4 linked regions of the Homo sapiens genome follow. The protein of the gene in region 1 purifies or fractionates together with the protein of each later gene. This does not show direct contact. Each region holds a gene or a part of one and is shown in the gene's direction. Other genes may lie near its edges.

Region 1 (5,800 bases):
AGCAGCCCTGGTACACTTAGCCACGTGATAAATCATCCCATTCCTGCTCTCAGGAGAGAATCGCAGATCCATTTTTGGAGAAACACATAGACGTCATTCTGTAAAGAACTGTCAAGGGAGAATGGCTTTAAAGCAGACTACCATGTAGCACCTTTCCCTTAAATTCTCCAGCCAGAGCTTCCATCAGCGTTTTTCACATTGACTTAGAACAGGCTGCTTTCCATTTTTATGTTCAATGTAAAACAGGTATCATTGCCTTTGCTATTGTAACTAGGTTCTTTCTGTTGCATAGAGAGGATGTCACAAAGGGTGCTAGGAGAATAGGGTGGCCAGTGAGAAAAGCGGCTGAGGATGAGACTTCAGTGGGTATCCTGGAGACTCCAGGCTTAGAGGTGCAGACTCAAGTGTCAGACACCCAGGGCTGCCTGGTCCACACCACAGCGCCCTGGAGAGTTTTCAACCTGCCTCATCCCCAAAAGACAGTCCCCCTCCCCACCTTCATCCCCTGTACAGTGTCCAGCCACCTCCTCACCACATCTCCCAGGCTTGGGACCCAGGGACTTGCATTGATCTCTCTGCCCTTCAGAGGCTGCCAGCCTCCCTTTGTGTGTAGCCTATGAAATGCAGATTGTGTAGGTATTTCTGTGTGACCTTGGAGCCTACGTAACTGCATTTTTAAAAAATTACTGATTCGTGTATCTGCAATCCCAAAGCATGGCCCTGCTCAACTTTAAGGGATGTACTTGAACTGTGGCTTTTTCCTCCCTTGAAGGGCACTGTGTTGGCACTCACTGAAAATAACTTCGATGACACCATTGCAGAAGGAATAACCTTCATCAAGTTTTATGCTCCATGGTAAGTGGCTGTTTAATTAGAAACTACTTTGTCCATGTGTACTAAGTCACATCATGTTTTTCAGCTCATCTGCCACCCCTCCAGACTCAATGTTGGGCACATGTTACATTTATATGTAGGTCATGTTGTAGGAAATAAGGAACCGTTATCATGCTCCTATATTCAAATATTTTAAACTTCAATGGCCTTAATTATATATGGAGAATGAGGCTACAGTTATATCAACTTTGATTATATATGGAGAATGAGGCTAAAGTTATATCAACTTTGGAGAAAACATAAAAATGGAGGCAAATTATGATGGCCATATTCAGTTTTGTGGTATCTGCACTTTTCCAAATAGATGGCTTTTCTTTTTGGCTAAACAATGAGTGTCATGATGTAGCTTTGCTCCTCGGTTCTTTTAAGTACTCGGATTTCTTTTGTAGAGAAATCCAGTAGAGTCTGTTAGAGCCATTCAGTATGCTACGCAGTTTCCTGAACCTGCATGCCACGTGGTCTTGGAGACCAGAGCAGAAATGGATTGCAGGTAGTGTGAGATCCAGACAACCTTGGTTCTAAGACTTACCGTGAATGACTGTATAGTAAACTTGGATGTCCTTTAATTCCTTTGAACCCCAGTTCCCTCAGCTGAAAAATGGGAGTAACTTTTTGTCTTCACAAATAAAACAATCCATTTGGAAAAGCAGAGTGTTAGGACAACAGTAGATTGTTTATCTAAACATGATAAAGGCGTCACTTTTCTTGTTTGTTACACTCCACATGTTCCTGAGAAACTAACCATAGGGGTAAAAAGTTAATAAGCACAGGACTTGAACGAACCATAGCAATGCCTTTCAAATCATTTGCAACATTTAAAAACCTAAAGCTCCACAGATCAAGTATCAAAAAGGAGGATCCCCTTTGGCTGAAGGGGAGCCATCCATACGGCAGGAGGGGGTCAGAAGAGACAAGGGAACAGAGTCGGGTAGAAGGGAGGGTTTGAACCAAACTTAATCATGGCCTTGATGCTCACCCCACATCGCTGAAGTACCAAGGAGGCCTTAAAATGGTTTTGAAATTGTGAGACCATAAGCAATCAAATCTAAAATGTCTTTGGCATTCAAGTGACCTTTTAGAAATTGTGTGGCATCTGCCCTGTTCCCTGTTCCTCTGCTCCTGTGCTTTCATAAACCAGTTAGCACAGTTCACCATGGCATGGAAATGGTCTCAGAATCTCAACTTGTTTTGAGACTGGCTTGCTTCTGTCACATTATCTGAAAGTCTACCTTGGATCAACTTTTGGGTTCTTCATTTGGGATAGGAGGAGGAAGAGTTAATGTGCACCCAGTGGGAGAATTTGGTATTTTACAAATTTCTAGGCAATTGTTGACTGTCCCATACAGAAGAAACAGAGCTTGTCTTGGCAGCAGAGTGTAGGTGAATGATCTCGACCCAGGATTTCAACGAAGCTGCCATTTTTCTCGTCTTAGGTGTGGTCATTGTAAGACTCTGGCTCCTACTTGGGAGGAACTCTCTAAAAAGGAATTCCCTGGTCTGGCGGGGGTCAAGATCGCCGAAGTAGACTGCACTGCTGAACGGAATATCTGCAGCAAGTATTCGGTGGGTACTTGGATGGATGCTTATGGGAGCTCTCAGTATGGGGGCAGATCCCAAGGGAACTGTGCCTCAACCACGATAACTCACTCTGCTCTCATCTTCTCAACAATGTGGTTTTTATGTCCCTTTGAGTTGTTTGTTTGGAGAAGCAAAAGAGATCCTCTCTCAAAGGGAAGGCATTCTTCTTCGCCCGCTTTGTAGTTAGTATCCATGTTTCAGTGCAGGTTTTCAGGCCTTGCTGTCTGAGTAACAAGGCCGTGAAGTAACAGACCCCACGCCATAGACTGTGGGGCTTCCCACACCGCGACTCTTGATGATTGACCAGTGGTCTGTAGCCTTTGCCATAAATACCCGAGTCGCTCATTTTTCACACATAAGCCAGCATTATAAAATGCAGTGGCTGAATCTAAGAATCATTTCAACATAACCTCCTTTCTGAAAGGGCCATGCCAGCAAGTCGGTCCTGTGCTTGGGTTAACTACTGCCTTCATTCCAAGCTGTTAGCACAGTCTGATGGCCTGGAAGATTTGTCATTTTTTTTCTTCTTTGTTATTCAGACACTTTTGGAGCCCTTTAGATGGAGAATAGACGTAACCCAGACATAGTTTCCTTATCATTAAAAGATACCAGTTGTTTTTTGTGCCCTAAAATTCTTAGAAACGAGTTGCCACTGAAACATGTATCCTCAAGAGGATCTTGCTCTCATGGTCTGGTCTGCAGACCACCAGGGCATCGCCAGGGAGGTCATTGGAAATGCAGACTCCCAGGCCTGCTCAATCCAAATCTGCACCTTCAGCAGATCCGCAGGTGATCGTGTGCACAGTAAAGACTGAAAGCGTCTGCTTTAGGGTAAAGTCGTTCCTTTGAGGCTGATCTTTAATGATGTCATTTTGAATTCAGAAGTGAACACACAGCCCCACGGCTGTGCTTTCTAAACAGTAGTCTGCTCCTGTTTTAATGGAATATACACCTTTAAAAATTAGCCACAGAATTTTTCCAGCCACAACGGTAGGAGTGTATCTGGTTTTATTTAGGAAGCAATTTGCATGTGATCTGGACCGCTGGTTTGCAAACTTTTTTCTTTTTTGTTTTAAGGTACGAGGCTACCCCACGTTATTGCTTTTCCGAGGAGGGAAGAAAGTCAGTGAGCACAGTGGAGGCAGAGACCTTGACTCGTTACACCGCTTTGTCCTGAGCCAAGCGAAAGACGAACTTTAGGAACACAGTTGGAGGTCACCTCTCCTGCCCAGCTCCCGCACCCTGCGTTTAGGAGTTCAGTCCCACAGAGGCCACTGGGTTCCCAGTGGTGGCTGTTCAGAAAGCAGAACATACTAAGCGTGAGGTATCTTCTTTGTGTGTGTGTTTTCCAAGCCAACACACTCTACAGATTCTTTATTAAGTTAAGTTTCTCTAAGTAAATGTGTAACTCATGGTCACTGTGTAAACATTTTCAGTGGCGATATATCCCCTTTGACCTTCTCTTGATGAAATTTACATGGTTTCCTTTGAGACTAAAATAGCGTTGAGGGAAATGAAATTGCTGGACTATTTGTGGCTCCTGAGTTGAGTGATTTTGGTGAAAGAAAGCACATCCAAAGCATAGTTTACCTGCCCACGAGTTCTGGAAAGGTGGCCTTGTGGCAGTATTGACGTTCCTCTGATCTTAAGGTCACAGTTGACTCAATACTGTGTTGGTCCGTAGCATGGAGCAGATTGAAATGCAAAAACCCACACCTCTGGAAGATACCTTCACGGCCGCTGCTGGAGCTTCTGTTGCTGTGAATACTTCTCTCAGTGTGAGAGGTTAGCCGTGATGAAAGCAGCGTTACTTCTGACCGTGCCTGAGTAAGAGAATGCTGATGCCATAACTTTATGTGTCGATACTTGTCAAATCAGTTACTGTTCAGGGGATCCTTCTGTTTCTCACGGGGTGAAACATGTCTTTAGTTCCTCATGTTAACACGAAGCCAGAGCCCACATGAACTGTTGGATGTCTTCCTTAGAAAGGGTAGGCATGGAAAATTCCACGAGGCTCATTCTCAGTATCTCATTAACTCATTGAAAGATTCCAGTTGTATTTGTCACCTGGGGTGACAAGACCAGACAGGCTTTCCCAGGCCTGGGTATCCAGGGAGGCTCTGCAGCCCTGCTGAAGGGCCCTAACTAGAGTTCTAGAGTTTCTGATTCTGTTTCTCAGTAGTCCTTTTAGAGGCTTGCTATACTTGGTCTGCTTCAAGGAGGTCGACCTTCTAATGTATGAAGAATGGGATGCATTTGATCTCAAGACCAAAGACAGATGTCAGTGGGCTGCTCTGGCCCTGGTGTGCACGGCTGTGGCAGCTGTTGATGCCAGTGTCCTCTAACTCATGCTGTCCTTGTGATTAAACACCTCTATCTCCCTTGGGAATAAGCACATACAGGCTTAAGCTCTAAGATAGATAGGTGTTTGTCCTTTTACCATCGAGCTACTTCCCATAATAACCACTTTGCATCCAACACTCTTCACCCACCTCCCATACGCAAGGGGATGTGGATACTTGGCCCAAAGTAACTGGTGGTAGGAATCTTAGAAACAAGACCACTTATACTGTCTGTCTGAGGCAGAAGATAACAGCAGCATCTCGACCAGCCTCTGCCTTAAAGGAAATCTTTATTAATCACGTATGGTTCACAGATAATTCTTTTTTTAAAAAAACCCAACCTCCTAGAGAAGCACAACTGTCAAGAGTCTTGTACACACAACTTCAGCTTTGCATCACGAGTCTTGTATTCCAAGAAAATCAAAGTGGTACAATTTGTTTGTTTACACTATGATACTTTCTAAATAAACTCTTTTTTTTTAAAAGTCTGGTCTTTCCTTCAATGTTACAGCAAAACAGATATAAAATAGACAATAAATTATAGTTTATATTTACAAAAAAAGCTGTAAGTGCAAACAGTTGTAGATTATAAATGTATTATTTAATCAGTTTAGTATGAAATTGCCTTCCCAGTACATGATTGTGAAAAAGACATTTAGAAAATATTCTAAAATTTAATCTGAGCCTCACTTTCTACAAGGGAAATCATGATTTCCGTTCATAAACAGCATGCTCATCCCCCTAACACCATTCTTATAAGCTGGGCACCCTCATTTTATTTTCTTCGTTGGTTCTAACCCTGTGGCGTGGTATGCTGTATAGTAAAAAGGCAGAGAACCACTTTACTGAAAAGGTACTAGAGCCGGCAGTCCAGAAGTTAATGTGCTGGTCAAAGAACCGTTCTGGTAAAGAAGAGGTGAGCATTGCCTTCACGTGTTACACGGTTACACACCCCTTGTAGCCTCACCTCAGTGTAATCAGTCTAC
Region 2 (7,028 bases), on another chromosome or scaffold:
CAAACTGTGTCCGTCCATACAATCTCGTATGGACGGACACAGTTTGTTTATCCATTAACTGGTTGATGGACTGTTGGGTTGTTTCCATTTTGACAACTGCAAATAAAGTTGCTGTGAACATCTGGATATGTGTCTCTGTGTGGACGTATATTTTCATCCTCTTGGGTAAATACTTAAGAGTAGAATGACTAGTTCATATGGTAGATGTGTTTAAATTTCTTTTTTTTTGAGACAGGGTCTCACTCTGTTGCCCAGGCTGAAGTGCAGTGGTGCAATCACGGCTTACTGTAGCCTCTACCTCCTTGGGCTCAGGTGATCCTCCCACCTCAGCCTTCCAAGTAGCTGGTAGGTACTACAAGGGCGTATGCCACCACACCCAGCTATTTTTTCTGTGCTTTTGTTGAGACAAAGTCTTGCCATGTTGCCCAGGCTGGTCTTGAATTCCAGGGCTCAAGCAATCTTCCCACCTCTGCCTCCCAAAGTGCTGGGATTACAGGTGTGAGCCACTACGCCTGGCTATGTTTTAATTTTTTTTTTTTTTTTTTTTTTTTTGAGATGGAGTCTCTCTCTGTTGCCCAGCAGTTGTTCACTGCAACCTCTGTCTCCTGGGTTCAAGTGATTCTCCTGCTTCAGCCTCCTGAGTAGCTGGGATTGTAAGGATGCGCCACCACACTCAGCTAATTTTTGTATTTTTAGTAGAGACGGGGTTTTGCCATGTTGGCCAGACTGGTCTTGAACTCCTGACCTCAGGGGATCCGCCTGCTTCGGCCTCCCAAAGTGCTGGGATTACAGGTGTGAGCCACTGAGACTGGCCATGTTTTAATTTTTAGGAAACTGCCAAGCTTGTTCCCAAAGTGGCTGTACCATTTTGCATCCCCACCAGCAATGTTCAAGAGTTCCAGCTCCTCCTCATCCTCACTAACACCTGGTATGGCCAGTCCTTAGTTTTAGCCATTCTTATAGGTGTGTGCTGGTGTCTTCATTTGGTGTTTTTATTTATTTATTTATTTGTGAGATGAGGTCTCACTCTGTCGCCCAGGCTGGAGTGCGATGGTGCGATCCTAGCTCACTGCACCCTGGAACTCCTGGGTTCAAGCAATCTTCGGGCCTCAGCCTCTGGAATAAGTGGGATTACAGGTGTGCACACCACTGTTCCCAGTCTTATTTTGGTTTTAATTTGCATTTCTCTAATAACTAATGATGTTGGACAGTTTTTCATGAGCTTCTTAGCTATTCATCTCTTTGGTAACGTGTCTTTTCAAATGTTTGGGCCATTTTTAAGTTGGGTTGCCTTTTTTTTTTTTTTTTTTTTAAGACTGAGTCTCGCTTTGTTGCCCAGGCTGGAGTGCAGTGGTGCGATCCTAGCTCATTGTAACCTCCACCTCTTGGGTTCAAGCGATTTTCATGTCTCAGCCTCCCGAGTAGCTGGGATTACAGGTGCATGCTACCACACCCGGCTAATTTTTGTATTTTTAGTGGAGACGGGGTTTCACCATGTTGGCTAGACTGGTCTCAAACTCCTGACCTCAGGTGATCTGCCTGCCTCAGGCTCCCAAAGTGCTGGGATTAGAGGCATGAGCCACCACACCCGGCTCTTTTTCTTTTTTCTTTTTTTTTTTTTTGAGATGGAGGCTTGCTCTGTTGCCCAGGCTAGAGTGCAGTGGCGTGATCTTGGCTCACTGCAACCTCTGCCTCCCAGGTTCAAGCAATTCTCCTGCCCCAGCCTCCCGAGTAGCTGGGATTACAGGCGTGTGCCACCACACCCGGCTAATTTTTGTATTTTTAGTAGAGACGGGGTTTCTCCATGTTGGTCAGGCTGGTCTCGATCTCTTGACCTTGTGATCTGCCCGCCTCAGCCTCCCAAAGTGCTGGGATTACGGCGTGAGCCACCATGCCCGGCCCTCTTTCTTAAAAGACATCTTTGTCATTCTCCCCTATCCTCCATCCTAGTGAAAAATCACTGTTTGGAGCAACTGATAGGGGCATCTCATGCCTCAGGTGCTAGTGTGGGGAGAACCCCTAATGTGGCAAGATGGAGCATGCAGAAAATGGATCATATTTTGAGGGAGATTGGTACAAGACATTCTCCCAAAAGTCATTTTGAGACATTGAGTCTTTGTAGCATTGTTCGTCTGTTCCTTCATTTATTGCAAATGGGACAGCCAGGCCTGGAGCACGACCCACCTCCTCGCCTCAACCTGCCCACGTCTCCTTCCTCTTCATCCTTCCACTCTCCAAGGTTCTGGCCCCTCAGAGCCACCTGCCTGACCATGCAAGCTCAAGTAGTCCCCAGGACACTTTTGCTAGTCACCTAGTGTGTGTGTGTGTGTGTGTGTGTGTGTGTGTGTGTGTGTGTGTTTGAGATGGAGTTTCGCTTTTGTTGCCCAGGCTGGAGTGCAGTGGCATGGTCACTGCAACCTCCACCTCCCGGGCTCAAGCAACTGATTCTCTTACCTCAGCCTCCCGAGTAGCTGGGATTACGGGCGCCTGCCACCAAGCCTGGCTAATTTTGTATTTTTAGTAGAGGTGGGGTTTCTCCATGTTGGCCAGGCTGGTCTGGAACTCCTGACCTCAGGTGATCTGCCTGCCTGGGCCTCCCAAAGTGCTGGGATTACAGGCGTGAGCCACTGCGCCCGGCTTGTGGTTTTTTGTTTGTTTGTTTGGTTTGGTTTGAGGAAGAGTCTCACTCTGTCGCCCATGCTGGCATGCAGTGTCGTAGCTACCTGCAGCCTTCTTGACCTCCTGGGCTCAAGCTATCCTTCTGCTTCAGCCTCCCGAGTAGCTGGGACTACAGGCATCTACTAACACACCTAATTTTTTTTTTTTTGAGACATTGTCTCATTCTGTCGCCCAGGCTAGAGTGCAGTGGCACAATCTGGACTCACTGCAACCTCCACCTCCTGGGTTTAAGCGATTCTCCTGCCTCAGCCTCCTGAGTAGCTGGGATTACCAGTGCACGCCACCACGCCCAAATAATTTTTGTATTTTTAATAGAGACGGGGTTTCACCATGTTGGCCAGGGTGGTCTTGATCTCCTGACCTCGTGATCCACCTGCCTTGGCCTCCCAAAGTGTTGGGATTACAGGCGTGAGCCACTGTGCCTAGCCCACACCTGACTAATTTTTAAAAATTGTTTTGGGCCGGGCGCGGTGGCTCATGCCTGTAATCCTAGGACTTTGGGAGGCCGAGGTGGGCAGATCACTTGAGGTCAGGAGTTTGAGACCAGCCTAGCCAACATGGTGAAACCGCTTCTCTACTAAAAATACAAAAATTAGCCAGGATTGGTGGCACGTGCCTGTAATCCCAGCTACTCGGGAGGCTGAGGCAAGAGAATCACTTGAACCCGGGAGGCAGAGGTTGCAGTGAGCTGAGATCGCTCCACTGCGCTCCCACCTGGGCGAGAGAACCAGACTGTCTTAAAAAATATATATATTATTTTATAGAGATGGGGTCTTATTATTATTTTTTTTTGAGATAGAGTTTTGCTCTTGTTGTCCAGGCTATAGTGCAATGGCATGATCTCGGTTCACCAAAACATCCGCCTCCTGGGTTCAAGCGATTCTCCTGCCTCAGCCTCCCGAGTAGCTGAGATTACAGACATGTGCCACCATGCCTGGCTAATTTTGTATTTTTAGTAGAGATGCGGTTTCTCCATCTTGGTCAGGCTGGTCTCGAACTCCTGACCTCAGGTTATCCGCCCACCTTGGCCTCCTAAAGTGCTGCGATTACAGGCATGAGCCACTGTGTCCGGCCAAGATGGGGTCTGATTATGTTGCCCAGGCTGGTCTTGAACTCCTGGGCTCAAGTGATCTTCCTGCCATAGCCTCCCGAAGTGCTGGGATTACAAGCATGAACCACTATGCCCAACCTGTATTTTTGTTTTTTGTTTTTGAGGTACTATATATGTAACACAAAATTCACCCACTTTAAGTGAACAATTCAGTGGCATTTAGTACATTCACAGAATTGTGCAACCATCACTGCTGTCCAGTTCCAAAACATCTTTGTCCCCGCAAAAGGTGACCCCATCTTCATTAGCACTAACCCCCTATTCTCCATTGCCCAGCCCCTGACAATCACCAATCTGCAGTCTGTCTCTATCCGTTTTCAAGTTTTATAGGTAGAATCATGCACTATGTGGCCTTTTGAGTCTGGCTTCTTTCACTCAGCATGATGCTTTGGGGGTCATGCATGTTGTAGCCTAAATCAGCACTTCATTCCTTTTTATGGCTGAGTAATATTCCACTGTGTGGATGCACCACATCATCCATTCATCTGTTGATGGACACTTAGATTGGTTCCACCTTTTGGCTATTATGAATCATGCTGCTATGAACATGAGTGTACACATTTTTGTCTAAACACTCATGTTCAGTCCTTTGGGGTACACATCTAGGAGCAGAATTGCTGGGGCGCATGCTTGTTGTATATTCTTGATCATGCTGGTCACCACCTAACGTTATTTGTTGTGTTTCTCTGGTGCCTTGAGGTTGGAAAGCCTGTCTCTCTTGTGCCCTCTTGTGTGCCTGGAACATGAATGACACAGAAGGAGGAAGTGTCCCAGAGACGTGGCTGAGAGGGAGGAAGGGAGGGATGGGGGTGTGCAAAAGCTTATTGCTCTCTGAGGCTTGCAGTCTGGCAGGTAGGAATTCCCTTCTATGGGATCAGGTCGATCTTTTGCCTTTCCAGTGAGGCTTGTGGGGCTGCTGGGGGGCAGTGGGGGCTGGCCTTAGTCTCTAGCTGCCTTTCTAGCCTGCCAGGCAACGCCCGCATCTGCCTTTTTGTCCCACGAAGGTTTTGTCTTTTGGCCAGGGGCGGGGGCAGTTCCTGTCTTCCCCCTGGCCCTTCCAGCGGTACCACAACTCAAGAAACTGTCCCCAGGAGGGACTGCGCTCCCCCACCCCCGACCGCCCCCAACGTTATATAACTTGTTTGTTCCAACTTCTGTCTTCTGCAACCGAGGGGGAAAAAAGAAAGAGAAAAGCTTATTCTCCTTCCTTCCTATCTCGAGGGATCAACAAAAAACCCGTTGCCTAGTAGAGGTGGTCATTAATGACTGAGCCGAACCTCAGGGATGGACAGAGTGGGGCTGCCCTGGCTGGGGTGTGCGGAGAGGAGGTGGGGTCCTTGCTGCAAGCACAAAGGACACTTGTTCACCAGCTGGCCTCCTCCCAGCTCGGGCCGCGGGGTCTAGACTCCTTGGAGGGAAAGGAGGCTTGGGCCACTTGGGGTGTCGCAAGGGGAGGCAAACCCTCTGGGGAGTCGCACCTCCCCAGCTAAAATTCTGTCACTGTGAGGTACCTGACCGGCAGAGTTTTGGAGGAACCTTCTGGCCTTGCAGCCTCTCCGACATGGGCCTTTGGCATCCACGCTTTTTGGCCCACGCTCCCTGGAGACGCCTGGGTAGGGCCCAGGCTCACTGAGTCATGCTGTTCCTGGGGGTGAGGTGGGGGGATCTGGGTGAGGGATGTGCCAGCTTCAGGCATTTGCATAAGAAGTGGTGGCTAGGCTGGGTGCTTTGGCTCACTCCTGTAATCCCAGCACTTTGGGAGCCCAAGGCAGGCAGATTACAAGGTCCAGAGTTTGAGACCAGCCTGGCCAACATAGTGAAACCCCCTCTCTACTAAAAATACAAAAATTAGTCAGGTGTGGTGGTGGGCGTCTTTAATCCCAGCAACTCTGGAGGTTGAGGCAGGAGAATCGCTTGAACCTGGGAGGAGGAGGTTGCAATGAGCCGAGATCCTGCCACTGCACTCCAGCCTGAGCGACAGAGTGAGACTCTGTATCAAAAAAAAAAAAAAAAGAAGTGATGGCTGGGACGTTGTGCCCAGGGGCTTTGCTGCCTGCTGAAAGTGTTTGCATGGAAAGTTGTGGCCGAGACGCTGCGCCCGGTGGGTTTGTCACAGTCAGTCTGGCTGGGTGGCCTTTGCCTGTTGAAGCTTTCTCCACAATCTAGATCATCTCCACCAAGCCCAGAGGCCTTGGAAGGGTCCAGCCCCCCAGCTCCTGCTAGGAAGACTTAGGGGAAGAGGTGGCTTCCCAAGGAGGTTCTTGCTACTTTGGGGAAGTTCTCATTCCTTTGGCCTCTTGCCCCTTTCTTTTTTATTATTATTAATTTTTTTTGACGTCACTCTGAGCTCAGGCTGGAGTGCAGTGGCATGATTTTGGCTCACTGCAACCTCCGCCTTCTGGGTTCAAGTGATTCTCCTGCCTCAGCCTCCCAAGTAGCTGGGACTACAGGCGCCCACTACCATGCCTGGCTAGTTTTTGTATTTTTAGGAGAGATGGGGTTTCATCATGTTGGCCAGGCTGGTCTCGAACTCCTGACCTCAGGTGATCCACCTGCCTTGGCCTCCCAAAGTGCTGGGATTACAGGCATGAGCCAGTGCGCCCGGCCTCATGCCCCTTTCAGAAGGAGGATTTTGACCCTTCCAAGACGTGGACTCAAGTCCTTCTCCTGGAAAATGTGGTCAGATATGGCGGCATGAGGTGTCTCATCATACCCATGGGTGACTGTGGCTCCCTCTTTATGGGTTGTGGCTGTGACAGATTCCTCATCTGGGAAATGGGGCTCCAGGCCCACCAGGTGGGGGGTGTCTGGGAGGAAACGAGTGGGGAGAGGTCACATGTACCTCATCAGTGTTACTGTGGCAGTGCTGACGCCCATGATGGGGACACTGCCATCCTTCTGCCCGCCATGCCCGCATGGGCCTTGAGGGGATCGTCAATGCCAGCAAGCCTTGATGTGGCGTGCGTGTGTCAGGCAGGGAAAGGAGAGGGTGAACTTGAGCCATTGGGAAGACAGTAGTGCCATGACTTGGGCCGTAAGAGGGACAGCAGCAGGGGCAGCGAGAGAGTAGAGCACGTCCAGCGTGAGCTGGAGAGGGCAGGTTCCGCCAGGAGTAGGCCTGGGAGCAGGAGCTCGGCAGGGCGGGGGCAGGGGCGGCGGGGGGTGGCGCGTCTCAGCAGGGATGGGGGCAGGTGGAACTGGGCCAGCCCAAGAAGGGCACTGGCCCACAGGCCGAGCC
Region 3 (7,028 bases), on another chromosome or scaffold:
GGATTCAGGGCCATTCAGCCTCCATCAGGCACAGGTGAATGCAGGATCTCGGGGGCCTGGCCTGGAGGTTGATGTGCTTCAGTAGCTGTGTATTCGGTGTATCCAGTGGTCTGCCTGAGAGGAGGGCAGTAACTCCTGATCTCTCTCCCACAACACTGCCTTGCCCCTCTTCCAGGGCTGAGCTTGGCATGTGTGGTGTCCTTGGGGTAAGTAGGCCCCATTTCTCTCGACATATGAGGATACTTGTGGGGCTCAAATTCCATTAGGAAGCCACTAACTTTGGACTCTGAGCCCTTGGAGCAAACATCCCTCTGCTTTTTGGCACTCGCTTAGCCCTGATTGGGAACTCCTGTGGCCCTGGTCAGGATCCTGGATGTGAGCAGATGCCAAGCACTCCCTCTTGGGTCAGGGCTGCAGTGGGAGCCTGAATCATGTAAGGAAGCTGGCTGTGTGGGGTCGCAGCGGCCAGGGGAATGGCCACAGACCCTTCTTGGACAGAGAGACCCTCCCTCTGCATGCTCTCTGGGTCAGCAAGGAGAGCCCAGGAACTTAGATCCCAGATAAAAGTGACATGTCCCAGAGTGCCCGGTTAGTATTGCAGCTCCTTGAGGAAGGAAGGTCATGGCAGACAGCACTCCCTTCCCCCAGCTTGGCAGCAGCTGACATCTGCTCACAGGACCATGTGAGCCCAGCAGCAGTGCAGAGGCCTAGATTATATTCAGAGAAGTTTCTTCAAAGCTGCCTTAGGCCCTTTGCTTCTGGTTGACATGATCTAGTCGCAGAGGCTCCAGCAGCCACACGCAGGGACCTGGGCTAGAAGATGATAGAAATCTAGCCTCAGTTAATGCCACAACCTTCAGCTAAAGGTGGAAGGCTGGTAGGACATGGTATCCTTGGGACCTCAGTTTCCTTAATTGTAAAATGAGCCAACTCTAGTCTTTCCAACACTAGGATTTTTGATTCTATGCAGCCTCTGTAAGTGTTATTGTTCAAAGGTTTTTAACTCCCCTGGCTGGCAGTTGCTATTTCGGGAAAAGGGCAAGACAAATACGGATGGGGTTCCCCTAACCAAGAAGGGAAAGGCAGCCTCTTGGGACAGCGTGACTGCCCTAATGAAGACTATTTTAGGCTCACCTGGCTAAACCATAAATCCAATTTTATCATTTCCTCACCTAAAACCCTCTGTTGCAATGGTTGTCAAACTCCAATATGCAACTCCTTTAACAAGCCTTCTGGGTGAGTTTACACGACTTAACCAGGTGCCACCCCCAGATCCCTACTGCATCAAGCTCTGGGGGTAGAGCCTAATAATTTGCATTTCCAACAAGATCCTAGGTGATGCCGATGCTGCTGGTTCAGGACTGCACTTTGGGGACCACTGTTCCCAGGGCTATTCATTGCAATTAGAACAAATTCCACAAGGTAGTACATGAAGGGCTCTCACCCCTGGCTGTACACTCACATCACCTAGGGAACTTTTAGACAGATGAATGCCCAGGTCTCACCTCAGATCAATTAGGATCTCTGGGGGTAGGCCCCTAGCTGCATCTGTTTCCCTGGATTATTCAGTGGGCAATCAGGATTAAGAACCACTCTTGCCTGACCTGACCCCTGCCTGCTTCTGAAACTCAGCTCTTCTCACTTTGCCCTCCTTCACAGTATTCCAGCTCTTCTGGCCCTCTCTGTGGCCTCAGACGGTCCCAGCTCATGTCCACCCCAGAGCCTTTGCACTTGTTCAGTCCTCTTGCCAGGAACACTCAACCCCAGATCTCTGTGTGGTTGCCTCCCTCCCGTCATTCATGTCATGGTCAAGTTTCGTATCCTCAGAGAGGCCCTCCCTGACTCCCTTAGCTAAAGTGGCTCCTGCCACATCGCAGCAGACATTCTCCATCCCACTGTTGTCTTTTCCTCGTAGCCCCCAGGGAGGAAGGCCCAGCCTTTGTTTATTCATTTATTTGCATGTTTACCTTCTATTTCCTCTACCAGGTTGTAAGCTTTAAAGTGCAGGGATTTTCATTTCTCTTGTTTCTATATTGTCCCTATTACCTAGACCAGGGTCTGGTACATAGAAAAGAACTTAATACATAGTTGTTGAATGAATGAAGACAGGGAAGAAGACTTTAAATGTAAGTACCCTGCACAGATACTAGAAAGTAATTGGTTAAAAAGGAAGAAATACCCTTTTAGGCCGGGCGCAGTGGTTCACACCCGTAATCCCAGCACTTTGGGAGGCCGAAGCGGGTGGATCGCCTGAGCCCAGGAGTTTGAGACCAGCCTGGGCAACATGGCAAAAGCCCATCTCTACAAAAAATACAAAAAATTAGCCAGATGTGGTGGTACATACCTGTAGTCCAAGCTACTTGGGAGGCTGAGGTGGGAGAATCATCTGAGCCTGGGAAGTTGAGGCTCAGTGAGCTGATTGTGCCACTGCACTCCAGCCTGGGTGACTAGAGTGAGACCCTATCTTAAAAAAAAGAAATTAATTTTTAGGGCACCATGCAGAGGTCATAAGATCTCAGAGTAAACAAGCAAATGGAGCTGAAAACATGGGTTGTTTGAATGCAACTGCAGAGACTATAGGAAATTGTAAAAATTGAGGTTCTGAGCATAAAGTGTAAAAATGCATTTCAGCAGGTTATGTGACTTGTAGATGTGGTTATTTTGTGCATATTTTAAATGCTGGCCATCACTGTGCTGCTCATGTGGGCTGCTCTTGCCCCTGCCTTCCAATTTTAAAGGCCACAGGAAAATTATATAGAGAGGGAAGAAACAGGTAGTGAGGTATATGGAGCTCAGGAGCCCACACACCAGCAGCAGCTAGCCCAGTCTTTAGGACCCAGAAAACAAGTAACACGTGTCAGGGCCTCCTGAAGAAAAAGGTGACCAGCCACCAGGGTGGGAGGAAGAGGCTGTGTTCATGACCAAAGGCTCAAACAGGGACTAATGCAAAGCTCACAAAAATATGAGAAATAGAAGTAGGGAAAAACAAAAGCTGAGACTGTAAGCAAGGGGCTGCTGTCACCTGTTCTTTTAGATGGAAGGCAAAAACTGTGCCCACCTGAGCTGCTGGGTTGGGCGTATCCTGCGTAAATGATCCTGCATAAATCCTGCAAAAGCTGTTAGAATAAGGTATCAAAAAGGCCATTTTTCTTTTCCTTCCAACACATACACCTAAGGAATCAAGCTCTGCTGAAGCACAGGAAGATAGGGGACAGTCAAGAGCACAGGCTGCCAGGTCAGGTGGAGCTGTGTTCAACTCCGGCTCTGCCACTGAGTGACTTCACTGCTGCATGCTGGTCTCCACATGCTTATCTCAGCAGGCCACCTGAGGGTGCAAGAATGGTGCACATGAGGTGCTTAGCAGCCCGCAAGAGGTCATTGGTAGTTCTTATCGCCATCACCTGCTCTGCTCTAGCAACGGGGGTGAGAGGGACCAAGGGTGTCAGAGCTGTGCTGCCACTGCTGAAGCAGCCTCCCCCGCATGGTGGGAAGGCCCTGCCCCGAGCCCTTCCTTCTGGCCGCAGACACTGCAGAATGAGATTCTGGGCCATACGCCGCGGGTTGAGGATGTGCTGCAGAGAGGGCAGCAGCTGGTGGAGGCGGCGGAGATCGACTGCCAGGACCTTGAGGAGCGCCTGGGGCACCTGCAGAGCTCCTGGGACAGGCTGCGGGAGGCAGCGGCCGGGAGGCTGCAGCGACTGAGGGACGCCAACGAGGCACAGCAGTACTACCTGGATGCAGACGAGGCTGAGGCCTGGATTGGCGAGCAGGAGCTCTACGTCATCTCCGATGAGATCCCCAAGGTCTGTTCGGGCAGGGGATACCAGCCAGGGTGCCCAGGCAGAGAGGAAGAGTTGAGGTTGGCTGTCGGTAGGGAGCCTTGTGAGTCCAACTGTGTGAGGAGTGAGGCCAGGGGAGGGGCACAAGGAACCCACAGACTCCCTGCCCTCCCTTGGTGCCTCCTTGAACACACCCCTGCAGGGCACACACTGAAGCCAGGTGCCTCCTGTTTACCCACTTAGGTTTGCTCTAACCCAAGGGTTCTCTACTTTTCTTTACCCTGGATTCTGTACGCTATGAAAGAGATGGGGTGAGAGGTGACAGGTGGGGGTCTCTCAAAGCTGGAATGATATAGGATGTTTTCATGGGGACAGGGGTTAGAGCACAAAAGGAAGGGTATATGTCGGATACGAATCAGGGGAGTCCAGAGAGGAAGGTAGGGCACGGGCATTGCTGGGAAATCAGAAGGGCAGGAAGGAAGCATGTGTGGCTCTCCTGCGGGTGTCCCACAAGCCTACTCCCCTCCTCCCTCGGGCACCTCCAGGAGTGGGGGCACAACTTGCCAAGGGAGGGATCATGGCCAGACTGAGCTCTGGCGCTGACCGTCTGCTGCCTCCTAGGATGAAGAGGGCGCCATTGTGATGCTGAAGCGACATTTGCGGCAGCAGCGTGCGGTGGAGGACTACGGCCGGAACATCAAGCAGCTGGCCAGCCGGGCCCAGGGCCTGCTGTCTGCAGGCCACCCTGAGGGGTGCGTGCGCCCCCTGTGGTGACTCGGTCAGGAGATGGGGATTGAGCCAGGGGCCCACCAGCCAACGTCCCTTCAGATTTAAAAGGAAAATGGAAAGAGTTTTCCCATCAAATAGGGCTGGAGAAAATTGCTGCGGGACTGGTGATGGATCCAATTTCATTTTATGCCTTGGTTTTGTGTGAATCACTTCCAGCTGGGCCATCGAGGCCCTGGTTTTCGAAATGATCAGAGAAGGGGTTAGCAAAACTACCCTCTTGGTGACCTGAGAGCACCAATTTTCCGAAGGGTTACAATATGCTAAGGGACACTGAAGACTACTTTAGCTTTTATTTTTATGGTCCAGAAGGTCTCCAGGACTTCACAGTCCAGACAGAACCATGATGTAGGAGTGCAGGTGGAAACCTGTGCCCACATGGGCTGCGAGGTTTTGTGGATCCTGCATAAATGGAAGCCCACTGGGCCACAGACCACACACTGCCCCCAGCCATGGCCCTGTCCTCAGCTGCCATTAGGGTGCCCACCACTGTGGGTCCTCAGCAGCCACCCCAGAGGTTTCCCTGGGAGCCACATTGTCTGGGCCCCTAGTATGTCTTTTCCCTCCCTGGAGGGCTGAGCAGAGCTGTTGCTGCGGGAGCCCCACTCAGGTAGTGCTGCTCCCCCAGCCTCTCTGGAAGAACAATGGAGGCGTTCCCCATTTGCACTTGTCCCTGTAAGCTTGCCAGAGTGAGGGGCACCATGGGAAGCACCCCTCCAGGACAGAATTCCAGGACACAGTGTGTCATCCCCTGAGGCTAGGGTGTGGCCCCTTCTCTCCCCAGCTCTTCCCCGGCAAAGCCCCTGTCATTTCTCCAGAGCTTCACTCCCTACCTATCCCTGCCAGGGGGCTGTGGTTGGCATATGTTGGCTCCCTGGAGCCACGGCTCTGGGTTCGTGGCTGCCGTCTCTGAGGGCCTTTTTGGTTTTGAATTCCAGGGAACAGATCATCAGACTTCAGGGGCAAGTGGACAAGCACTACGCAGGGCTGAAGGACGTGGCGGAAGAGCGCAAGCGCAAGCTGGAGAACATGTACCACCTGTTCCAGCTCAAGCGGGAGACCGACGACCTGGAGCAGTGGATTTCAGAAAAGGAGCTAGTGGCCTCTTCCCCGGAAATGGGGCAAGACTTTGACCACGTGACTGTGAGTAGCCACAACTCCTGCTGTTTTTGTCTTTCTCTAATGCGGTAGACGCAGCCAGCCGTCACTCAAGACACACAGAGTGCTGCATAGGACGTAACCTCCCCAGTGTGAGGCGGGACCAGCCGATGCAGGCCTGCCCTGGGGAAGGTGTGACAGCGCAGCTCCCGGAGCTGCAGTTGCTGCCTGGGAAAGTCTTTGGCTAAGCTGGTGACACCTGTAACCCCTGTGCCCCCCATAACCACATTTCTGTCTGCCCCATGCCTAGCTTCTGCGGGACAAGTTCCGGGACTTTGCCCGGGAGACCGGGGCGATTGGGCAGGAGCGGGTGGACAATGTGAATGCCTTCATCGAGCGACTCATCGACGCGGGCCACAGCGAGGCGGCCACCATCGCCGAGTGGAAGGACGGGCTGAACGAGATGTGGGCAGACCTCCTGGAGCTCATTGACACGCGCATGCAGCTGCTGGCCGCCTCCTATGACCTGCACCGCTACTTCTACACGGGTGCCGAGATCCTGGGCCTCATCGACGAGAAGCACCGCGAGCTGCCCGAGGACGTGGGGCTGGACGCCAGCACGGCCGAGTCCTTCCACCGGGTGCACACAGCCTTCGAGCGGGAGCTCCACCTGCTGGGTGTCCAGGTACCTTCAGCCCCCTGCCGCCCACCTGCTACCAATTTCCAGGAGCCCTGGGTGTCAGTCCCCACCTGGCTGTCAGCAGGAAAACCTCTAGGATAAGTGCCAGGAGGTTTTGCCTCCTTAGACAGCCAGGAGCTCAGGGCTGGGAGCAGTGGCTTTCAGATGTTCCTTAGCTTCAGAAGTCATTCTTTAAACTGAATCCTCACAAAAGGCCAATGCATACAATACTATACGGTTGCAGTTTCTCCAGTTGTGCAGTACTATTAGTGGACACACGCACAGCACTTTTCTAGCACCAGGTGCTCTTCTGAGCAATGTATGTAGCCGCTGGACCCTCATGGCAGTCCTCTGAGGCAGCTACTAATATTCCCTGCACTTTGTAGATGAGAAAAGGGAGAGGTAGAAGACCCATAAGTTTCCCAGGAACATGTAGGTACGAAGTGGAGCCAGGGCTCAGACCCTGGCAGTCTAGCTATAGACCCCACATACTTAGCCACCGGGCACTTCAGCCTTTCCACATGGGAGCTGGAGAGCCCCCAAGTTCTACTGTTCAGACCCCTGCCCCATCACTGGAGTGCCCTCCGCAGATCCGTAGGGTGCCCCAGAGCTTGGTGTGATAGAAAGGGCAAATGCAAGGGGGCCCCTGTTGCTGAGGGCTCCCCCAGCTTCCAGTGCAGCAGGGA
Region 4 (7,028 bases), on another chromosome or scaffold:
AAAAAATTTTTAATTAAAATATTTAAATTTCTTTCATTTTGCATTTTTTTTTTAAATAGGGATAGGAGTCTCTGTATCTTGCCCAGGTGGTCTTGAACTCCGAGGTTCAAGTGATTTTCCTGCTGCAGCTTCCCAAAGTGCTGGGATTACAGGCGTGAGCCACCGTGCCTGGCCTAAAAAATATACATATATGGCCAGGCGTGGTGGCTCACGCCTGTAATCCCACCACTTTGGGAGGCCGAGGTAGGCGGATCACCTGAGGTCAGGAGTTTGAGACCAGCCTGGCCAACATGGTGAAACCCTATCTCTACTAAAGATACAAAAATTAGCCGACCATAGTGGCATGCACCTGTAATCCCAGCTACTTGGGAGGCTAAGGCAGGAGAATAGCTTGAACCTGGGAGGCAGAGGTTGCAGTGAGCCAAGATCTCACCACTGTACTCCAGCCTGGGCGACAGAGTGAGACTCCATCTAAAAAAAAAAAAAATATATATATATATATATATATATATATATATATATATATATATATATGTAAATGTATATGTATTGTCTAAAAAAATACAAAAAATATATATGTATATATGTGTAAGACAGGGTCTTGCTCTGTCACCCAGGCTGGAATGCAGTGGTGCAATCTTGGCTCACCTCAGCCTCAACCTTATGGTATCAAGTGATCTTCCCACCTCAGTCTCCTGAGTAGCTGTGAATACAGGTGCACACCACCAAGCCCCACAATTTTGTGTGTGTGTGTTTTTTTTGTTTTTTTTTTGAGACAGAGTCTCTCTCTGTCGCCCAGGCTGGAGTGCAGTGGCATGATCTCTGCTCACTGCAAACTCTGCCTCCCAGGTTCACGGCATTCTCCTGCCTCAACCTCCCAAGTAGCTGGGACTACAGGCGCCCACCACCACGCCTGGCTAATTTTTTGTATATATATATTTTTTTTAGTAGAGACAGGGTTTCACCGTGTTAGCCAGGATGGTCTCGATCTCCTGACCTTGTGATCCGCCCGCCTCAGCCTCCCAAAGTGCTGGGATTACAGGCGTGAGCCACCGCACCCGGCCTTTTTGTGTGTTTTTTTTTGCAGAGATGGGGCTTTACGTTCTTGTTCAGGCTGGTCTTGAACTCCTGAGCTGAAGTGATCCTCCCACCTTGGCCTAAAAATATATATTTTTTTATTTTTGAGATGGAGTCTCGCTCTGTTGCCCAGGCTGGAGTGCAGTGGCGCAATCTCAGCTCGCTGTCACCTCCACCTCCTGGGTTCAAGTGCTTCTCCTGCCTCCTGAGTAGCTGGGATTACAGGCGTGCCCCACCACACCGGGCTAATTTTTGTATTTTAGTAGAGATGGGGTTTCGTCATGTTGGCCAGGCTGGTCTTGAACTCCTTACCTGAAGTGATATGCCTGCCTCAGCCTCCCAAAGCGCTGGATTACAGATGTGAGCCATTGCACCTGGTCTGAAAATAATTTTTTAAAATTAAAACTTTTAGATTTTTTGGCTGGGCGTAGGCTAACGCCTGTAATCCTAGCACTTTAGGAGGCCAAGGCAGGTAGATCACCTGAGGTCAGGAGTTTGAGACCAGCCTGGCCAACATGGTGAAACCCCATCTCTACTAAAAATACAAAAATTAGCCAGGCATGGTGGCGTGTGCCTGTAATTCCACCTACTCGGGAGGCTGAGGCAGGAGAGTCACTTGAACCTGGGAGGCGGAGGTTGCAGCGAGCCAAATCGCACCGTTGCACTACAGCCTGGGCAAGAGCGAAACTCTGTCTCAAAAAAAAAAAAAAAAAAGACTTAGATTTTTCAGAGGAAAACCCCAGTCTGAAGTGTGAAAGTCTTTTTTATAGTTTATAAAAGTGCCATTTATTTTATGAAACAATGCTTTGGGCTATTACTGTCACTAATTAATAATCAAGAGCCTGTGCTGCTTGGCAACTACTGTGAAGTGCTTCCTGGCATCAATGAGTGTTAACACTATAAGAAAACTTAGGCCAGGCATGGTGGCTCACGCGTATAACTCCAGCACTTTGGGAGGCCGAGGCAGGTGGATCACCTGTGTCAGGAGTCGAGACCAGCCTGGCTAACATGGTGAAAGCCCGTTTCTACTAAAAATACTAAAAATACAATAAAAATTAGCTGGGCGTGGTGGTGCATGCCTGTCATCCCAGCTACTCGGGAGGCTGAGGGAGGAGAATTGCTTGAGCCCAGGAGTTGGAGGTTGTGGTGAGCTGAGATCACGCCATTGCACTCCAGCTTGGGTGACAAGGTGAAGCTCTGTCTCAAAGAAAAAAAAAAAAAAAAAAAAAAAAGGCCGGGTGTGGTGACTCACACCTGTAATCCCAGCACTTTGGGAGGCTGAGGCAGGCGGATCTTGAGGTTGGGAGTTCGAGACCAGCCTGGCCAATATGGTGAAACCCCATCTGTACTAAAAATACAAAAATTAGCCGGGTGTGGTGGTGGGTGCCTGTAATCCCAGCTACTCGGGTGGCTGAGGCAGAAGAATCGCTTGAACCCAGGAGGTGGAGGTTGCAGTGAGCCTAGATCGTGCCACTGCACTCCAGCCTGGGTGACAAGAGCGAGACTCCATCTGAAAAAAACAAAAAAAACACACAACTTGCAGGTAATCTTCCAGAGCAACACTGTTTTTTTGTTTGTTTGTTTTGTTTTGTTTTGTTTTGTTTTGAGACAGAGTCTCACTCTGTCGCCCAGGCTGGAGTGCAGTGGCTCGATCTTGGCTCACTGTAAGCTCCGCCTCCCGGGTTCATGCCATTCTCCTGCCTCAGCCTCCCGAGTAGCTGGGACTACAGGCGCCCGCCACCATGCCTGGCTAATTTTTTTGTATTTTTTAGTAGAGATGGGGTTTCACTGTGTTAGCCAGGATTGTCTCAATCTCCTGATCTCGTGATCTGCCCGCCTTGGCCTCCCAAAATGCTGCCACCGCGCCTGGCCCAGAGCATCACTGTTTTGTAGAACTTCCAGTGATGATGGAAATGGGGCTAGTGCGACAGATGTATTTTCAATTTTATGGCATTTTAATTGCCATTTAAATAGCCACTGTGGCTAATGGCTATGATATTGGAAAGTACAGTTCAGAGTACTGAGAAGTGTGGAGATTAGTTTTCACTCTCAAGGAAAGGTAAGATGCTGGAATGTGCAGTTACAAGGCTAACCTAATGATATTTGCAAAAGTGCTGCAGTGGATGACTCCTGTGTTGAAGAGAAGAACTGCAGACCCACGGTGGCTGCCTACTTCGTGTCTCCACTTCAGGATCTGCGAGAAAATCAAGCTCTGTATGTCCAAAGCAGCTGAACATACTTGGAGACAACTCTTCCCTCACAGTAGCATTTCCTTCTTCCATTTTATCTTCCATATAGCCAGAGTGATTAAAAAAAAAAAATCCAGGTTTATGCAGGTATAATTGTAGAGTTTGTTGGGTTTTGACAAATGGATGTAGTCATGTAACCACTGCCGTAATCATGATGTAGAACGTTTCCATCACTCCAAACAGTTCCTTGGTCCCCCTGTGTACTCAATCTCCATCCCTTATCTCTGGCAGCTGCTGATGGGATTTCTATAACAAATGGAATCATGTGATATGATGTGTAGCCTTTTGAGTCTGGCTTTCATTTTTGTTTTGTTTTGTTTTGTTTTTTGAAGGGACAGAATCTTTCTCAGTTGCCCAGGCTGGAGTGCAGTTGCACAGTCCTTGCTGAGTGCAGCCTCCAGCTCCTGGGCTCAAGTGTCCTCCCATCTCAGCCTCCTGAATAACTGAGTCGACAGGCATATGCCACCAGGCCTGGCTCTTTTTTTTTTTTTTTTTTTTTTTGAGACAGAGTCTCACTCTGTCACCAGGCTGGAGTGCAGTCGCACGATCTCGGCTCACCGTAACCTCTGCCTCCTGAGTTCAAGCGATTCTCTGCCTCAGCCTCCTGAGTAGCTGGGATTACAGGAGCCCATCACCACGCCTGGCTAACCATCTTTGCCAGGCTGGTCTTGAACTCCTGACCTCACGATCCACCCACCTTGGCCTCCCAAAGTGCTGGGATTACAGGCGTGAGCCACTGTGCCTGGCCAGTCCTGGGTAATTTTTAAAAATTTTTTGTGGGGGTGGAATCTGGCTGTTGATGCCCAGGCTGGTCTTGAACTCCTGGCCTCACACAGCCCTCCCACCTTGGCCTCCCAAAGTTTTGGGATTACAGGCATGAGCCACCACCCTACCTGGCGTCTTTTGCTTAGCCTAGTGCTTTTGAGATTCATTCTTGTTGTTGAGCCTATCTGTTAGTGCATTCCTTCTTCTTGCTGAGTAGTGTTCCAGTATATAGACTGCAATTTGTGTATTCATTCACCTGTTTATGGACATTTAGTTTTTTTCCAGTTTTTAGTGACTGAAGAAAGCTGCTATAAGTAGATAAGTATCAAGGCCAATTTTTATTTATTGATTTATTTATTTTTCTTTTTTGAGACAGAATCTTGCTCTGTTATCTACGCTGGAGTGCAGTGGCACGATCTCAGCTCACTGCAAGCTCCGCCTCCCGGGTTCACGCCATTCTCCTGCCTTAGCTTCCCGAGTGGCTGGGACTACATGCGCCCGCCACCACACCCTGCTATTTTTTTGTAGTTTTGGTAGAGATGGAGTTTCACCGTGTTAGTCAGGATGGTCTCGATCTCCTGACATCGTGATCTGCCCGCCTCGGCCTCCCAAAGTGCTGGGATTACAGACGCGAGCCACCGCGCCCGGCTGCATTGTCTCTTTCTTATAGATTAAGAAGAGTGTAAAAATTTTTCTGGATTCCAGTTCTGTATGGTTATATATATTGTAAATCCATTCTCCCAAGTTGTAGCTTGCCTTTTCATTCTTTTTATGGTATTAAAAATTTTTTTTTAATTTAAATTAAAATTTTTTTTTTGAGATGCGATCTCGCTGTTACTGTGGCTGGAGTGCCTATTCACAGTCACGATCATGGTGCACTGCCTCCTTGAACTCCTGGTCTCAAATGATCCTCCTGGTTCTGCCTCCCAAGTAACTGTGTCTGTATTTGTGAGTTACCACTCCCAGCTATGTGCTGTCTTTTGATGAACAGAACTTTAATTTTAATGCAGTTAAATTTATGGATTATGCTTTTTCAGTCTTGTTGTTTTTGTTTTCAGACAGGGTCTCGCAATGTCGCCCAGGCTGGAGTGCCGTGATTTTGAATCAGTGCAACCTCTGCCTCCTGGGCTCAAATGATCCTCCTGCCTTGGCCTCTTAAGTAGTTGGAAATGCAGGCACACACCACCAGGCCGGGCTAATGTTTGTATTTTTTATAGAGCCATGTTGGCCAGGCTGGTCTCGAACTCCTGGGCTCAAATGATCCACCTACCATGGCCTCCCAAATTCTTTTTAAGTCTTCTTAAGAAAAATGTTTAGGCCGGGCTTGGTCGCTCACACCTGTAATCCCAGCACTTTGGGAGGCCAAGGTGGGCGGATCACAAGGTCAGAAGATCGAGACCATCCTGGCTAACACAGTGAAACCCTGTCTCTACTAAAAATACAGAAAATTAGCCAGGTGTGGTGGTGGGCACCTGTAGTCCCAGCTACTCAGGAGGCTGAGGCAGGAGAATCGCTCGAACCCAAAAGGTGGAGGTTCAGGGAGCCAAGATTGCGCCCTTGGACTCCAGCCTGGGCGACAGGGTAAGGCTGCGTCTCAAAAGAAAAAAAAAAAAAAAGAAAAGAAAAAGAAAAACGTTCGTATCCTAGATTCATAAAGAAATTCCTCAATATTTTCTTTTATCTTGAAATTGAAAATGAATCATCTCAGCAGAAAGTATACTCTCTTCTGACCTAATAATGGTTGGTGATTTATTAGTCTCAGCATTGCAACAGCTTTGCCACAAAGATAAAGATTGAGGACTGTGTTTTACTCTAATAAAAACTAAAATAAAAAAGCACAACTCAAATTATTTGGCTAGGAGCAAAATTATAAGTAATTAATAATCTGTGTGTTTTTCTGGAGCAATCCAGCTTCGGTTCCTACTTTTTTAGTTTCATACAATGTTCATTTTGAAAAACTATAGAGATGGAGGGGCAGAATAGGACTTTTTGGTGTAAGTGACTATTAATATGTATACTGTGAAATATTTTTTCTTTTTTAAATAAATTTATATATGTGTATTTTAACATCGAGATGGGGGTCTCACTGTGTTGCCCAGGCTGGTGTCAAACTCCTGAGTTTAAGTGATCCTCCCACCTTAGCCTCCCAAAGTGCTGTGATCACAGGCATGAGCCACTGCACCTGGCCTATTTTTTTTTTCTAGAAAATTTAATATAAAGATGTGGTGATGAATGGGAGAAGAACAAAGACGTTAAGGATTTCGTGCCAGACTGTGTTAAGATTTAGGTTATGCCACCTGTCTTCCATGTGATCTTGGGCAAGTTACTTCCTTTCTAAGCTTCAGTTTTCTTTTTTAAATTTTTTTTTCTTTTTTTTACTTTTTTTTTTTTTGAGACGGAGTTTCACTCTTGTTGCCCAGACTGGAGTGCAGTGGCATGATCTCGGCTCAGTGCATCCTCCACCTCCCAGGTTCAAGCAATTCTCCTGCCTCAGCCTCCCAAGTAGCTGGGATTACAGGCGCCTGCCATCATGTCCGGCTAATTTTTTGTATTTTTAGTAGAGACGGGGTTTTACCATGTTGGCCAGGCTAGTCTCAAACTCCTGACCTTAGGTGATCCACCCGTCTTGGCCTCCCAAAGTGCTGGAATTACAGGCATAAGCCACTGTGCCCAGCCTTGTTTTTTTTTGTTGTTTTTTGAGACAGAGTATTGCTGTCTCCCAGGCTGGAGTGCAGTGGCGCGATATAGGCTCACTGCATTCTCCAACTCCTGGGTTCAAGCGATTCTCCTGTCTCAGCCTCCCGAGTAGCTGGAATTACAGGTGTGTGCTGCCATGCCTGGCTAATTTTTGTATTTTTAGTAGAGACGAGGTATCGCCATGTTGGCCAGGCTGGTCTTGAACTCCTGACCTCAGGTGATCCACCGACCTTGGCATCC

Evidence for each region.
Region 2: the proteins of TXNDC5 (region 1) and KLHL26 purify together in Homo sapiens (affinity purification with mass spectrometry; 2 studies listed by BioGRID and IntAct, with this or other methods). This does not show direct contact.
Region 3: the proteins of TXNDC5 (region 1) and SPTB purify together in Homo sapiens (affinity purification with mass spectrometry; 2 studies listed by BioGRID and IntAct, with this or other methods). This does not show direct contact.
Region 4: the proteins of TXNDC5 (region 1) and WDR59 purify together in Homo sapiens (affinity purification with mass spectrometry; 2 studies listed by BioGRID and IntAct, with this or other methods). This does not show direct contact.

The regions. Positions count from the first base shown.
Region 1 is NC_000006.12:7,881,016-7,886,815, reverse strand, and holds the end of TXNDC5 (thioredoxin domain-containing protein 5 isoform 1 precursor), read left to right. Parts: intron 1-772; coding exon 773-855; intron 856-2,327; coding exon 2,328-2,457; intron 2,458-3,549; coding exon 3,550-3,672; 3' UTR 3,673-5,299; downstream 5,300-5,800. UniProt on the Homo sapiens protein: Protein disulfide isomerase of the endoplasmic reticulum lumen involved in the formation of disulfide bonds in proteins. Can reduce insulin disulfide bonds.
Region 2 is NC_000019.10:18,640,025-18,647,052, forward strand, and holds part of KLHL26 (kelch-like protein 26), read left to right. Parts: intron 1-4,613; exon of another isoform or gene 4,614-4,642; intron 4,643-7,028. UniProt on the Homo sapiens protein: May play a role in endo(sarco)plasmic reticulum (ER/SR) mitochondrial signaling. May be part of the ubiquitin-proteasome system (UPS) and affect ubiquitination and degradation of target substrates in cardiomyocytes.
Region 3 is NC_000014.9:64,771,900-64,778,927, reverse strand, and holds part of SPTB (spectrin beta chain, erythrocytic), read left to right. Parts: intron 1-3,176; coding exon of another isoform or gene 3,177-3,278; exon of another isoform or gene 3,279-3,509; intron 3,510-3,524; coding exon 3,525-3,803; intron 3,804-4,400; coding exon 4,401-4,531; intron 4,532-5,503; coding exon 5,504-5,708; intron 5,709-5,973; coding exon 5,974-6,348; intron 6,349-7,028.
Region 4 is NC_000016.10:74,975,120-74,982,147, reverse strand, and holds part of WDR59 (GATOR2 complex protein WDR59), read left to right. Parts: intron 1-7,028. UniProt on the Homo sapiens protein: As a component of the GATOR2 complex, functions as an activator of the amino acid-sensing branch of the mTORC1 signaling pathway. The GATOR2 complex indirectly activates mTORC1 through the inhibition of the GATOR1 subcomplex.